Homo sapiens: one gene and its partners. The protein of the gene in region 4 purifies or fractionates together with the protein of the main gene of each other region. This does not show direct contact. Each region holds a gene or a part of one and is shown on either strand. Other genes may lie near its edges.

Evidence for each region. The genes of interacting proteins can lie anywhere in the genome.
Region 1: the proteins of COQ8B (region 4) and GOLPH3 purify together in Homo sapiens (affinity purification with mass spectrometry; one large-scale study listed by BioGRID and IntAct). This does not show direct contact.
Region 2: the proteins of COQ8B (region 4) and TIMM44 purify together in Homo sapiens (affinity purification with mass spectrometry; one large-scale study listed by BioGRID and IntAct). This does not show direct contact.
Region 3: the proteins of COQ8B (region 4) and CLPX purify together in Homo sapiens (co-immunoprecipitation; one large-scale study listed by IntAct). This does not show direct contact.

Annotation. Positions count from the first base shown.
Region 1 is NC_000005.10:32,126,768-32,129,319, forward strand, and holds part of GOLPH3 (Golgi phosphoprotein 3), read right to left. Parts: intron 1-2,552. UniProt on the Homo sapiens protein: Phosphatidylinositol-4-phosphate-binding protein that links Golgi membranes to the cytoskeleton and may participate in the tensile force required for vesicle budding from the Golgi.
Region 2 is NC_000019.10:7,930,167-7,933,666, reverse strand, and holds part of TIMM44 (mitochondrial import inner membrane translocase subunit TIM44), read left to right. Parts: intron 1-96; coding exon 97-182; intron 183-734; coding exon 735-827; intron 828-915; coding exon 916-1,040; intron 1,041-2,478; coding exon 2,479-2,529; intron 2,530-3,500. UniProt on the Homo sapiens protein: Essential component of the PAM complex, a complex required for the translocation of transit peptide-containing proteins from the inner membrane into the mitochondrial matrix in an ATP-dependent manner.
Region 3 is NC_000015.10:65,182,543-65,186,782, forward strand, and holds the start of CLPX (ATP-dependent clpX-like chaperone, mitochondrial precursor), read right to left. Parts: upstream 2,801-4,240; 5' UTR 2,612-2,800; coding exon 2,533-2,611; intron 1-2,532. UniProt on the Homo sapiens protein: ATP-dependent chaperone that functions as an unfoldase.
Region 4 is NC_000019.10:40,696,387-40,699,886, forward strand, and holds part of COQ8B (atypical kinase COQ8B, mitochondrial), read right to left. Parts: intron 1-3,500.

The DNA.
Region 1 (2,552 bases), on a different chromosome or scaffold from region 4:
CCTAACTAGACCATGAACCCCTTAAGCCTAGCCAGACCTTTGGATTCTAAGCACCCAGCACATCCTCAGCCACAGGAGTCACTCAGACGACTAAACTGCAAGCAGTCTTCAGACCAGAGTCAGTAACCCTTAGTCTTATGTGGAAATGAGCCAAATATTATGTTTGAGCTTCCTTCCAGCTGAAGTCAAAAAGCAGCCAATAGCCAAATAAGTTTTCTATTAAACACCAGTCTGCAACTAATAGACTAAAAAAAAAAGCTTCCTGATTAATATGTTATTCCTGAAACTGCTACACATATACAGCCTATAGAGGTAGGAAAGCCTGTTTAGGCCATGCTATTATTTGATAACAATATAAAGCTAATTCTGGAAGGATACAAATTTTCACAATTTTAACCTTGCCATCCATACATATTTCCTTTTGAGAGAGAAATATTTAAAATAAAACCAAACGATTTTTCACTAAAGTGGGTTCTTCTTTATAGAAAACTGGAAGGAAATACACCAAAATATTAATCTTACTTATCTTTGGGATTATGTGTGCTCAACTTTTTTTGTGCTTTCTGCATTTTCCAAATGATCTCCAATGAACATGCAACTATTTTTATACTTAAAAAAACTATATTTTTCTAAATTAGAATATGTTAAAGATCAACCACAGGCATCTTTTTTAAATGCAAACGTTGTAAGGTCGAGATTTTCTAATACTGAGAGAAAACCTTCAGCCACACTGTCCATTACAGGAGCCATTACCCACATAGAGCTATTTAAATTAATTTAAAAATTCATCTCTTCAGTGGCACTAGCCACATTTCACGTATACAATAGTGACGTATGGCCAGTGGCTACACCCCACAGGAACAGAACATTTTCATCATCAAAGAAAGTTCTAGCGGACTATCTTAAAATTTTAAGTTGCTGTCTTAAAATATATTACCATTCAACTGGACAGAGACACAATTATTTTCCTATACTTAATACTAAACAACATAGGCCTATGATGAAGTAATCATTCCTAAAGCTGCCCTCTCATTGTAATTAGAAATCTCCATAAAATATACGAAAAAACTGTTTTCAGACACTAGTCAAAAGCAGCCCAGAACTGTGACACTTGAGTGCAGCCTATGTGAGCCTGACAACTGCCTAAGCTTACCACCTAGAGGCACGTCCCAGGCAGCAGAGCAGGCAGGAAGAACCCAAGCAGAGCACAGCAGTCCCATCACGTTAAGGCAGCAGAGATCAGAGTTCAGGGTAGCTAAGGCAGCTGCAGTGTGCAAAGCAGACTACTGGAGAAGGGGGACCTACACAGATAAAGAGGTCTAGAAATCTGCAAGGTGTTCCTTGAGTCTTGGGCTGAAAGCTAAAGCTACATGTGTTAGGGTGAGAAATTCCACAAAGCTAGGCAAAGAACACCTACCAGAAAGTGAACAATTCTAAGAGTTCAGTAGAGCTGGGAAAAATGTGATTGCCAACTAGCCAGAGAGCAAAAGCCTCACTAAAAACCAGGACATTCAGAAGGAATACTAGAAAATTCACATCTTAGTAGTAGGGCTAAACCAGTCCTAGAGTATAGACCACCCTAGACATGCCCTAATAAAGATTAAAAGCGGCCAGGCGCGGTGGCTCAAACCTGTAATCCCAGCACTGTGGGTAGCCCAGACGGGTGGATCACCTGAGGTCAGGAGTTCGAGACTAGCCTGGCCAACATGGTGAAACCCCATCTCTTCTACAACTGCAAAAAATTAGCCGGGCATCGTGGCAGTTGCCTGTAATCTCAGCTACTCGGACGGCTGAGGCAGGAGAATCATTTAAACCGGGGGAGGGCAGAGGTTGCAGTGAGCCGAGATCGTGCCATTGCTCTCCAACCTAGGCAACAAGAGTGAAACTCCATCTCACAATTTAAAAACAAAAACAAAAAATTAAAAACAAGTTGATCCACAAGTAACTTAGCTGCCTACCAAGACAAAATTCAACACTCTTTAAAGAAAGACCATAAAATTCATCACTTAACATTCACACTGTCCAGCATCGAAGTTAAAAAAAAAAAAAAATCACTAAACTTGCAAAGCAGCAAAAAAGTGACCTAAAACTAGGGGTAAGGGGGGAGTCAACAGAAACAGTCCCAGCCTGGGCAACATGGTGAAATCCCGTCTCTACAAAAAATACAAAAGTTAGCCGGGGCCAGGCATGGCGGGTTACGCTTGTAATCCCAGCACTTTGGGAAGCCAAGATGGTGAAACCCTGTCTCTACTAAAAATACAAAAATTAGCCAGGCATGGTAGCAGGTGGCTGTAATCCCAGCTACTCGGGAGGCTGAGGCAGGAGAATCGCTTGAACCCGGGAGGCGGAGGTTGCAGTGAGCCGAGATTGCACCACTGCACTCTAGCCTGGGTGACAAGCACAAGACTGTCTCAAAAACAAAAACAAAAAAACCCCCAAAAAACAAAACCAAAAAAACCCTAGTGTCCTAGTGCAAGTCATCTTAATCTATTTCTCCATTTACTCATCTATAAAGTGAAAGTAACAAATTTATCAAGCTCATAGGGCTATTA
Region 2 (3,500 bases), about 33 Mb from region 4:
GCCTGCTGTCCTGTACTGCCCCCTGCCTGCAGCCGCAGGAGGGCACAGGGTGGCCCTGGCGCCGCCGCTCACCCCAGGGCCCACCCTCTTCCCCAGGGAGGCCCTGGGGGTCGTGCTGCACAAGGACTCCAAGTGGTACCAGCAGTGGAAGGACTTCAAGGAGAACAACGTGGTGTTTAACCGTGAGTGAAGGTGTCTTGGAGGGCAGGTGACTGTGTCCCGGGCAGTTGGTGGACCGCAAGGTGATCCCCCTGCATTGGGCACAAGACAGCCCCGTTTTGCAGAGGAGGAGATCGGGGTCAGAGTGGGCCGGTCACTTCTTTGCGGTCACATGATGGTGGGGCTGTAGATTCTGCCGCCAGAAGCCAGGTGCTCCCTCATAAGCACAGTCAGGGCCCCGAAACGAGCCGCAGGCCCCTGTCCCTTGTCCTGTGAGGACTGCTAGAGGCCTGTGTTTCCTTTGTAGTGAAAGCAACAGCCAGTGGGGTGGCGGCCCATAACTTACACAGCCCCATTAGGGCCGCAGCTGAGGGGCCTCTGCGCCTGGCCAGGTAGGTGGGCAGGCAGCGGTCCCCAAGCACAGATGAGGATGCAGGTCCACAGCCGTCCCCTCCCTGACCCCACCCGTGTCAGGGTGGATCCCGCAGGGGTCACAGGGAGCCTCTAGAAGCTGTGAGGGAGGGTTGTGTTTCTGGAAGGGGCCCCTTCTCCAGCACCTACCCCATCTTCCACAGGGTTCTTCGAGATGAAGATGAAGTATGACGAAAGCGACAACGCGTTCATCCGGGCATCCCGGGCCCTTACGGACAAGGTCACCGACTTGCTGGGTGAGTGAGTCATCCCTGGACCTCGCAGGCTGGTGGTGGGGCGGGGTCCCCGGCCTTCCCCCCGAACTCCCGGCTCTGCTCCCTGCAGGGGGCCTGTTCTCCAAGACAGAGATGTCGGAGGTGCTCACGGAGATCCTCCGGGTGGACCCGGCCTTTGACAAGGACCGGTTTCTGAAACAGTGCGAGAACGACATCATCCCCAATGTCCTGGAGGTGGGTGCCACACCCCCAGGACCCCTCCCAGGCGGCAGGTCCTGGCTCCACCACCTCCCCCGCCGCAGCCGGCACCCTGGGTGCTGCCAGGGAACTCTGCTGCCGAGGCTGTTTTCTGAGGAGGCTGGTTGCACACGGGCTCCTGCCCGGCTGCAGCTGCCCCATGAGCTGTGCCCGAAGCCCTTCCTGGGCCTTACCGGCACCTCCGGTACCTCCAGGTCTGTTTCCCTCACTCCTCCTGCCTGAGGCTGTTGTTCCTTTGAGGTTGCTGGGAGCAGCTGCTGGAGGCTAGGGATTGTCTCAGGTGCCTGGAGCCCCTCACCCCTTGGGAGAAGTGGGCGTCTGTCTTCAGACATCAGAGCTGGCCCCAGGCCACGTCTGACCCAGAGCTGCAGCCGTGAGGTTCCCTCACGGTGCTGTCCCTGGCAACCAGACCCTTGTTGGGCTTATAGATGAGGGTATCTTGCTCAAGGTCATGCTGCAGCCTGCCCCCTATAAGCCTCTCCCTGAGGTTGGTGGCCTCTTGTCTTCCCTGCTGCCTCTGCCTCTCTGCAGCCCCCAGGATGCAGGAGGAGCCTGGACACCTTCGGCCCAGTCGGGCCAGGCCTCTGGAAGGCCCTTCATGGGACTCTCCATCCTTGGCCCCGCCGGCCTCCGCCCAACGTCCTCTTCCTCCTCCAGTTTCCCGTATCCTTCCCGCCACTTCGGGCAGGGCTGGGAGGTGGTGCGGATGGGCGCCATGCCCCAAAACAGCAGCCTGAGCACCGCAGTGCCTTCCGGGATGGGTGATGGGTGCCAAGTGTTCTGGCCACCCGCCCCCTGCCGCTCACAGCTTTCACCACCAGCATCCGGCTCCTTCCCGCTCTTCTCCCCGCTCCAGGCACCTCCCTCCCCCTCATCGGATCCGGCCCAGGCTCCAGGATCCTGTGGAAGCAGCTCCCAGCCCAGGCACGCCCCCTGCAGCCCACCCCTCCCTCTCGCTGCCCCCAGCAGTTAGGAGGCAGCCGGTCCCATGGTGGGCCTTGCAGTCCGAAATGTGGTCCCCTGGGGGGACAGAGGACATGGGCTCACTGCGGGAGCCGGAGTTGGGTCCTCATCTCCCTGGCTTGGATTCCTGACCAGGCTGAAAGCTGGGTCCCCAGCCACCTTTCTCTTCCTCCACCAGGTTCCAGGGGGGTCCCCCTGTGGGGTGCCTCCTGGGTGGTCGCCCGCAGGCCGCCCTCCGCCTGTGCCTAGGCCAGAGCCAGGCACTGACACCAGCAGGGACGGGCCTGGGGGGGACACCCAGTGCCACAGCTCCACCCGCGCCCCACAGGTGGCAGCCGGGGGTGTCTGAGGAAACTCCCCACCCCGCACCACTGGAGAATGTTCCCAGGACCTCGCCTGCTGCCTGAAAAGCCCACTCTCGTTCTGGTGCTTATTTTCCCTTCCTTTTTAGGCCATGATTTCTGGAGAGCTTGACATTCTCAAAGACTGGTGCTATGAAGCTGTGAGTACTTCCTTTCTTTTTCTTTTTTTTTTTTTAAGGCCTAAAAAATCACCATGGAGAAGTTCCACTTCGGTGGCTCCGTTGGGGTAGCTCCCAACAGGCAGGACCTGGGCTCCCGGTGGGGGAATCCTCACGTCTCACCCTCCGAGAGCCTGACATCCCCCCCTGCCCCTTTCCATTCCTCAGCATGTGACACATCTGGGCTCTCAGGCTGGACACCGGGTCACCCGCCAGTCCTTTGCTCCCAGACTGTAAACTTTGTTAGGGAGAATCCTTCTCTGGGCTGGTGTCTAAGAGATGGCTGGTTGGGGGTGTCCCCTGGGCCTGTGAGAGATCACAAAGCTGCCAATTTTACTGGGCCTTTTTTTTCCCTCCAATCTTAAAATAATTTTGGTTAGGTCTGGGCACGGTGGCCTATGCTTTCAATCCCAGCAGCCCAAGGCGGGAGATTGCTTGAGCCCAAGCATTCAAGACTAGCCTGGGAAACATAGCAAGATCCCGTCTCTACAAAAACATTTAAAATGAGCCAAGTGGCAGGGTGCGGTGGCTCATGCCTGTAATCCCAGCACTTTGGGATGCCAAGGCAGGCGATTGCCTGAGCTCAAGAGTTCGAGACCAGCCTGGGCAACATGGTGAAACCCCATCTCTACTAAAATAAAAAGTTAGCCAGGCATGCTGGTGCATGTCTGTAATCCCAGCTACTGGGGAGGCTGAGGCAGTAGAATTGCTTAAATCCGGGAGGTGGAGGTTACAGTGAGCTGAGGTCGCGCCACTGCACTTCAGCCTGGGCAACAGAGCAAGATTCTGTCTCCAAAAAAAAAAAAAAAAAAAAAAGAGCCAAGCATGGAGGCAGGCACCTGTTGTCCCAGCTATTAGGGAGGCTGAGGTGGGAGGATCACTTGAGCTCACGAGGTCAAGGCTGCAGTGAGTCATCGCAGCACAGCACTCCAGCCTGGGTGACAGATCAAGAC
Region 3 (4,240 bases), on a different chromosome or scaffold from region 4:
TCTGATTTTGATTGATGACAAATCCACAGACACTTCTAAGACTACTGTGGATGTGTTGCCCACATTCATAGGCCAAGGAAACGTTGTGTTTCAGTTAGAGCTTAGTGAAAATAAAGTTCACAGAATCTCTGAATTCTATTCAAGGACCCTTTGGAGGCCTGTAAACCCCAGGTGAAGCTCTGAAAGCCAAAAAAGAGAAGTGTTTCTGTAAAGTATATTTCACCAGATTACCTGGCAGCAACCAGAAAAGACAATTTAAGTTTCACTATTTACAGAACTTTATCATACAGACAAAGCTTTCTAAATTTCAGAACAACTGTTTTTAAAAAGAAATACTAGTCCGGGTGCGGTGGCTCAAGCCTGTAATCCTAGCACTTTGGGAGGCCAAGGCGGGTGATCTCCTGGGGTCCAGGAGTTGGAGTCCAGCCTGACGAACATGGCAAAATCCCGTCTCTACTAAAAATATAAAAATTAGTGGGGCGTGGTGGCGCGCGCCTGTAACCCCAGCTTACTCAGGAGGCTGAGGCAGAAGAATTGCTTGAACCCAGGAGACGGAGGTTGCAGTGAGCCGAGATCGCGCTACTGCACTCCAGCCCGGGCAACTTAGCAGATTCCATCAAGACAGACACACAAAAAGAGGCCAGGCGCGGTGGCTCACGCCTGTAATCCCAGCACTTTGGGAGGCCGAGGCGGACGGATCACAAGATCAGGAGATCGAGACCATCCTGGCTAACACGGTGAAACCCCGTCTCTACTAAAAATACAAAAATTAGCCAGGCGTGGTGGCGGGCGCCTGCAGTCCCAGCTACTCGGGAGGCTGAGGCAGGAGAATGGCGTGAACCCAGGAGGCGGAGTTTGCAGTAAACTGAGATCTGGCCACTGCACTCCAGCCTGAGCGACAGAGCGAGACTCTGTCTCAAAAAAAAAAAAAAAAAAAAAAGAAAGAAAATAAGACAGACAGAAAGACAGATAGTAGATGGAAAGAAAGACAGAAAGGAAAGAAAGACAGGAAGGAAGGAAAGGAAGGAAGGAAGGAAGGAGAAAAGAAAAGAAAAAGAAAGAAAACAGTCGTTTTGAAAAGAAAAAAAAATAACTGCCTATCTCCTATGATTCAAAAATGTTCACGGACTCTTGGCTACAAGAGATCAGTAACACTTTCAAAGAAGCCGTCCCTGACCAAAGGGAACACACACATACTTCATCCACCCACTGGAAACTGTATTATTCTTTGTCTACTCCACTAGATTTAAACATGAGGGTGAGGACTTATTCACCACTCTACCTCCAGCACTAAAAGAAGGCCTGACACACAGTGGACCCTTGACAAATATTAATATATATCAGATAAATGGATTAAAATATGTCACTTTAAAGTGTTTGCAAATCGAATTCCTGGAATCGGGACATCTACTGGTTGAGGCTTAACATCGATTTAGGATTAAATTTACTCCCTTACATTTATATATCATTTTACAAAATGCTTCTGCCCACGTTACCTCATTCAATCCTTCCTTCTGTAGTAAAGAAACTGGAAGATATATTTAGTAAACAATAAGGATTTTATAATTGGCTTAGAAGTTAGATAAAAGGGGCCTTTTTAAAAATCCATCCAAGGGTCATAAACCGATAAGCCAAAATAAAACGAATTTGTCTAGAAGTCAGTCATTATAACAGGATCTAGCCTCGTGGTCTGACTTCCACAGATTTGAGGAAGAGAAAAAAAGTTTATTTTCCAGACTCTCTTGGCTGGGGCGCCATTCTTTCACAGCTTCAGATAAACAGAAAGAAAAGGTAAACAACATGCGCCACTCTTAGGAAACTACCTCCCGGTCAAGTTGGGAAAGCCAGCAAAGGACTGCTGAAACACCCAAGTACTTCCGAACCAACTCCTGCGGGACTTCTCCCCATCTCTCCCGCCGCTGTCCTGCGGGCCCCGGGGCTTGCCTGACGCCGGGAAGTATTGTGAACCTTGTTTATGTCCCAGTGTCAGGGCCGCACAGTGATAGTAACATCTCGGGTATCGCGCGGCTTGCGTCCGGGACGGCCAGCTGGGTGCCCCGAGTCCTGGGGGACCCTAGTAGGGACAGATCCTCAGCCGAGCCCCTCCTGGAGCCCCCAACGGGCCCGAGGGGGATCCCGGCCAGGCTGCGGAAGAAGAGCCGCAGCCATGGCAGGCGGCGGTCCCCGGCAGGGCTGAGTGGGATCTGGAGACATTTTTTAATAACAGGAGCATTTTGTGCCTTTCAGGGTTTCTACAAAGTGGCCGCATTCCGGCCCCAAAGTCAGCAGGCCTGAAAGCGTGCAGGCAGGCGCGTGGGAAGGAGTTTACTTCCAATTTGAGCAACGGCTGCTCCAGAGGTTGGCAGAGCCCCATTCCACGGGGAAAGTGGTGGGTGCCGGGCGAAGCGCCGCGCATTCCCTCACACTCCCCGGGTGCAGCAGGCCTCGTGCCCTCCCCGGGGCCCCCAACCATTGGCCAGTCCACCCCCCCCCCGACAGGCTGAGGGCTCAGGAGTGGCACTATTTCGTTACCTCTCTGCGCGGAGGCGAGTGAGGAGGTGATGAGCCGGACGGCCGCCGCGCCGCAAGTACAAGCACCGCAGCTGGGCATCTCCGCGAGGCCTAGGCCGGGGCTTCGCCCCCTGAGGACCTCCGGGTCACAGCGGCGTGAATCCTGCCCGCAAGGCGCGCTGACTCGGTTCCGAACCCTTTCGCGGGCCCTAGACCCCGTGGAGAGTTCACCTGCCCGGCAGCCAGGCCTTCACGCTTCTCTGCCCCACAGCCGTCTATTCACCAGAGTAGACACCCAACCCCCCCCTCCCTTCCCCTCCTTCTCCTTCTACCCCCACCCCCAGCCTACTGGGCCCGGGGAGCTTGCGCGCGCCTGCGCCCTAGGCCCGGGGAGGGGGCGGAGGGCGTGGGCACGCGCCGTGTTTGCGAGCTGGTGAAGCTACGTGAGGCGAAGGCGAGGGGGTGGTGCCCTGGGCGCCAATGAGTTCCCTACGGCAAGCGTCTAGCCCCAACTGGGGCGACTACAGGTCCCGACGCTCAAGGTTGCCAAAAGCCCTTTTATCCTAAAGTTGAAAGGTTTTGCGATAGACGCGGAGAGATGCATGCCGGGACTTGTAGTCCCGAGTCGTCATAGTCGAGCTCTTCCGGTCACTTTTAGTGGGCGGCAGGGAAGGTCAAGGTGAGGCTGGTGGCTTAACCCTCCAGGGGGAAGTCTCTAAAGTGCCTTGGTAGGCGCTGGATGCTTCAGATTCACTAAATTTCTTCCCCCGGAATTCCACATCCTGTGTTCCTTATCTTCTCATTCTCCTTAGTTTCATCACTTGTAACATGGAGTTGGTATTGTCAGTTAGTTCCCTGAGCAGCAATTGTTAGTTGGTAACAGCTCCGTCTCCTTGTTCTTTCAGGCCTCGTGGTGATAAAGCTTCTAGCTGTTGCTAGTCCGTGGGTGCTTTAAAGTCTTGAGGGTTTTCTTTTCTTTCTTTCTTTTTTTTAATTTAGTAAAGATGAGGTCTCCCTATGTTGCCCAGGCTGGTCTCAAACTCCTGGGCTCAAGTGATCCTCTCGCCTCGCCCTCCCAAAGTGCTGGGATTACAGGCGTGAGCCACCGCACCCGGCCGTGATTAAGGATGGCACTGCATAGATAACCTCTGGTCAGGTTCCTATCAGGCCATCCTCTCAAGTTATGAATTCAAAAGCACAGAGCCGGCTGGGCGTGGTGGCTCACACCTGTAATCCCAGCACTTTGGGAGGCCGAGGCAGGTGGATCACGAGGTCAGGAGTTTGCGACCAGCCTGACCCACATGGTGAAACCCCATCTCTACTAAAAATACAAAAATTAGGTAGGTGTGGTGGCGTACTCCTGTAATCCCAGCTACTCAGGAGGCTGAGGTGGGAGAATTGCTTGAACCCAGGAGGCGAAGGTTGCAGTGAGCCGATATCGTGCCATTGCACTCCAGCCTGGGCGACAGAGCGAGACTCCGTCTCAAAAAAAAAAAAAAAAAACCCAGAGCCATCTGAGATTATCCCTGTGAGAAAATGGATCCTTCACCAGGAAAGTGATGGCAAATACTTGTGGTCACATCAGCCCTTCCACATCACACCTACTTTCAGCTGTTTTCTGACAGATTAATGACGCTTTAAAAAGAAAGTCAAGTGCAGTTTTCCAGCTCAAATAGTTTACACTGGAGGAGTTAACTCCTTGAGTTATTTACTTTTTGCGAACTACATA
Region 4 (3,500 bases):
CCACACGTGGTGGCTCACACCTCTAACCCTAGCACTTTGGGAGGCCAAGGTGGGTGGATCATGAGGTCAGGAGTTTGAGACCAGCCTGGCCATCATGGTGAAATCCCGTCTCTACTAAAAATACAAAAATTAGCCAGGTGCGGTGGTGCGTGCCTGTAATCCCAGCTACTTGGGAGGCTGAGGCAGGAGAATGGCTTGAACCTGGGAGGTGGAGGTTGCAGTGAGCCGAGATTGTGCTATTGTACTCCAGCCTGGGCAACAGAGTGAGACTCCGTCTCAAAAAAAAAAAAAAATACTCCCCATCCACGTGGAGCCTCCTGTGTATCCCGCCCTGATCACACCTCCCCCAGGTCCCCAGGGTCACCTCTTTCCTACAATCATTATTAAATTATTTCCTGAAATTCTCATTTATGCATTTCTATATTTTCTATGTATGTGTACAGCTGTAAACAATCTAGAGTAATGGTGTGCATATTTTCAAACTTCACAGAAGTGGTATTTACTGTCGTTCTCCTGCAACTTGTGCTTTTTGCCCAGCATGGTTTTGCGATTTATCCCTGTTGCCATGTGTCGCTCCAGCTCAGTCACTCATTTCACACTGCTGTGTAAGGACTTCGTTGCGTGAATCTATCACAGTGCATTTATCTGGCTGAGGAATACTGTGGTTGTTTCTGATTTTTTTTCCTTCTTTTTAAATATGTTTATTAGTTATAAACTCTGTTCTGACATTTTTTTTTTTTTTTGAGACAGGGTCTTGATCTGTTGCCCAGGCTGGAGTGCAGTGGCACGACCATGGCTTACTACAGCCTCAAACTCCCACGCTCAAGTGATCCTCCCGCCTCAGCCTCCTGGGTAGCTGGGACCACAGGTGCACCCCACCACACCTGGCTAAGTTTGAAACATTTTTTGTAGAGATAGGGTTTCACTACGTTGCCCAGACTGGTCTCGAACTACTGGGCTCCAGTGATCCTCCCACCTCAGCCTCCCAAAGTGCAGAGATTACATTAGTGAGTCATCTCACCTGGCCTGTTTCTAATTTTTGTGCTCAATGAACACCTGTAAGAATGTTTCTAGGGCAGTAGAGTTTGAACTGACCACAACCCACAGTAAGAAATTGTTTCTACTGGTGGCTGGGCGTGATGGCTCACACCTGTAATCCCAGCATTTTGGGAGGCTGAGGGGGGCGGATCACCTGAGGTCAGGAGTTCAAGATCAGACTGGCCAACATGGTGAAACCCCACCTATACTAAAAATACAAAATTAGCTGGGTGTGGTGGCGCACGCCTGTAGTCCCAGCTAGTTGGGAGGCTGAGGCAGGAGAATCACTTGAACCCAGGAGGTGGAGGTTGCAGTGAGTCGAGATTGTGCCACTGCACTCCAGCCTCCATTCTCAACAAGAGCAAAACTCTATCTCTAAACAAACAAATAAATAAAATTATATATATATATATATATATATATATATAGAGAGAGAGAGAGAGAGAGAGAGAGTTTCTACTGGGCGTTCATGCAAATGCACACAAAAACGTCAAACAAAAGTGTCCCAAGGCCAGGCGCAATGGCTCATGGCTGTAATCCCAGCACTTCGGGAGGCCAAGGCAGGCGGATCACCTGAGGTCAGGAGTTCGAGACCAGCCTGGCCAACATGGTGAAACCCCATCTCTACTAAAAATACAAAAATTAGCTGGGCGTGGTGGCAGGCACCTGTAATCCCAGCTACTTGGGAGGCTGAGGCAGGAGAATTGCTTGAACCTGGGAGGCGGAGGGTGCAGTGAGCCGAGATCACACCATTGCACTCCAGCCTGGGTGACAAGAGCGAGACTTCATCTCGGGGAAAAAAAAGAAAAGTGTCCCAAAATAATATGGATCCCTCCCATCTGTGACATACTGACATCATCTATTCCATAAAAAAAAAAAAAGTGCTGGTGGATCATGAGGTCAGGAGTTCAAGACTAGCCTGGCCAAAATGGTGAAACCTCATCTCTACTAAAGATACAAAAAATTAGCCAGGTGTGGTGGCGGGCACCTGTAATCCCAGCTACTTGGGAGGCTGAGGTGGGAGAATTTCTCGAACCCCAGAGGCAGAGGCTTCAGTGAGCTGAGATCGTGCCATTGCACTCCAGCCTGGGCAACAAGAGCAAAACTCTGTCTCAAAAAAAAAAAAAAGTCCTGTTGGAAACCAATAAATTGATGTCAGGACTCCTATCACTTGGAGTTGGGTAAACATATCCCTGGGGTATGAACCTAGGAGGGGACACAGGGTGTATGCACATTGTGGAGAAAGAAGAGGCAAGGGACTAGGGCTGGAGACTCCGTGGGGCCACAGGATGCTCAGCAAAGGGTTCAGACTTGATTCTGAGGGGGCTGTGAAGCTGTAGGAGGGATATCTTGACCAGATTTGTGCTTTAGAAAGACCCCTCTGGGGACAAAATGGGGATAGACCACTTTGGAAAACAGTTGGCAACCCCTGATAAAGGTAATGATGTATCCACCAACACTCAAGTCTGCAGGTCCAAACCTTCACTACAGGTCTTTGTACACCCCCTGCCCTCTGCTGGGAACACTCTGCTCTCTGGATGGTTGTCTCCTTTTCCCCTGTCCCATCTCAGCCTTTTTTTTTTTTTTAAATAGAGCCCAGGCTGGTTTTAAATTCCTGGCCTCAAGGGATCCTCCTGCCTCAGCATCCCAAAGTGCTGGAATTACAGGCATGAGCCACCATGCTCAGCCTCTGGTCTCAGCTTTTTTTTTTTTTCTTTGGTGAGACAGAGTCTCGCCCTGTCACCCAGGTTGGAGTGCAGTGGCATGATCTTGGTTCGCTGCAGCCTCGACCTCCTGGGCTCAAGCCATCCTCCCACCTCAGCCTCTCAGTGGCCTCAGCTTTAATGGCACTTGCTTTAAGAAGCCTCCCTTAATCCCTGCTCACCCCACAGTGAGTCAGGCACTTTCCCTGGGATCCCATAACTTCCTGTGCCTCCCCCAACTCCAGCCCCCACCCCTCTGCCTGTGCCTCCCCCATCCCGGTCCTGACCCATCTGGCCTGTGCTCCTCATTGTGGTTGGTACGAACCACTCTAGGTCATCGCTGTGTGGTGCCAGGTCCCCCCACTGGACTGGGCACTCTGAGAAGGCAAGGGTCAGGGATGTCTTTTTATTGCTGTCAAGAGGCAAGGGCAGGTGATGGTGTGTTCTGTATGGATGACGAGTGTGGTAGTGATGGCTAACTGCCTTCCAAAAGCTGTACTTCCCCTCTGTGCTGTCACATTGCCACCAGGAACCACTGCCTAGCCAGGGACTCCATTTTCCAGCATGCCTTGCACCTAGGCAGGCTATGTCACTAGCTCTCACTGATGGAATGGCAACGGAAGTGCTATGTCCATTGCCCCAGGATGAGCTTAGTGTATTTAGCCTGGGCATTACTTTTTCCACTTCTGGCCAAAGCAGTTAGGCAGGGGGCTACCCTCAACCTCTCTTACCCTTTCCTTGGGAAGCAGAGCGTTGCAA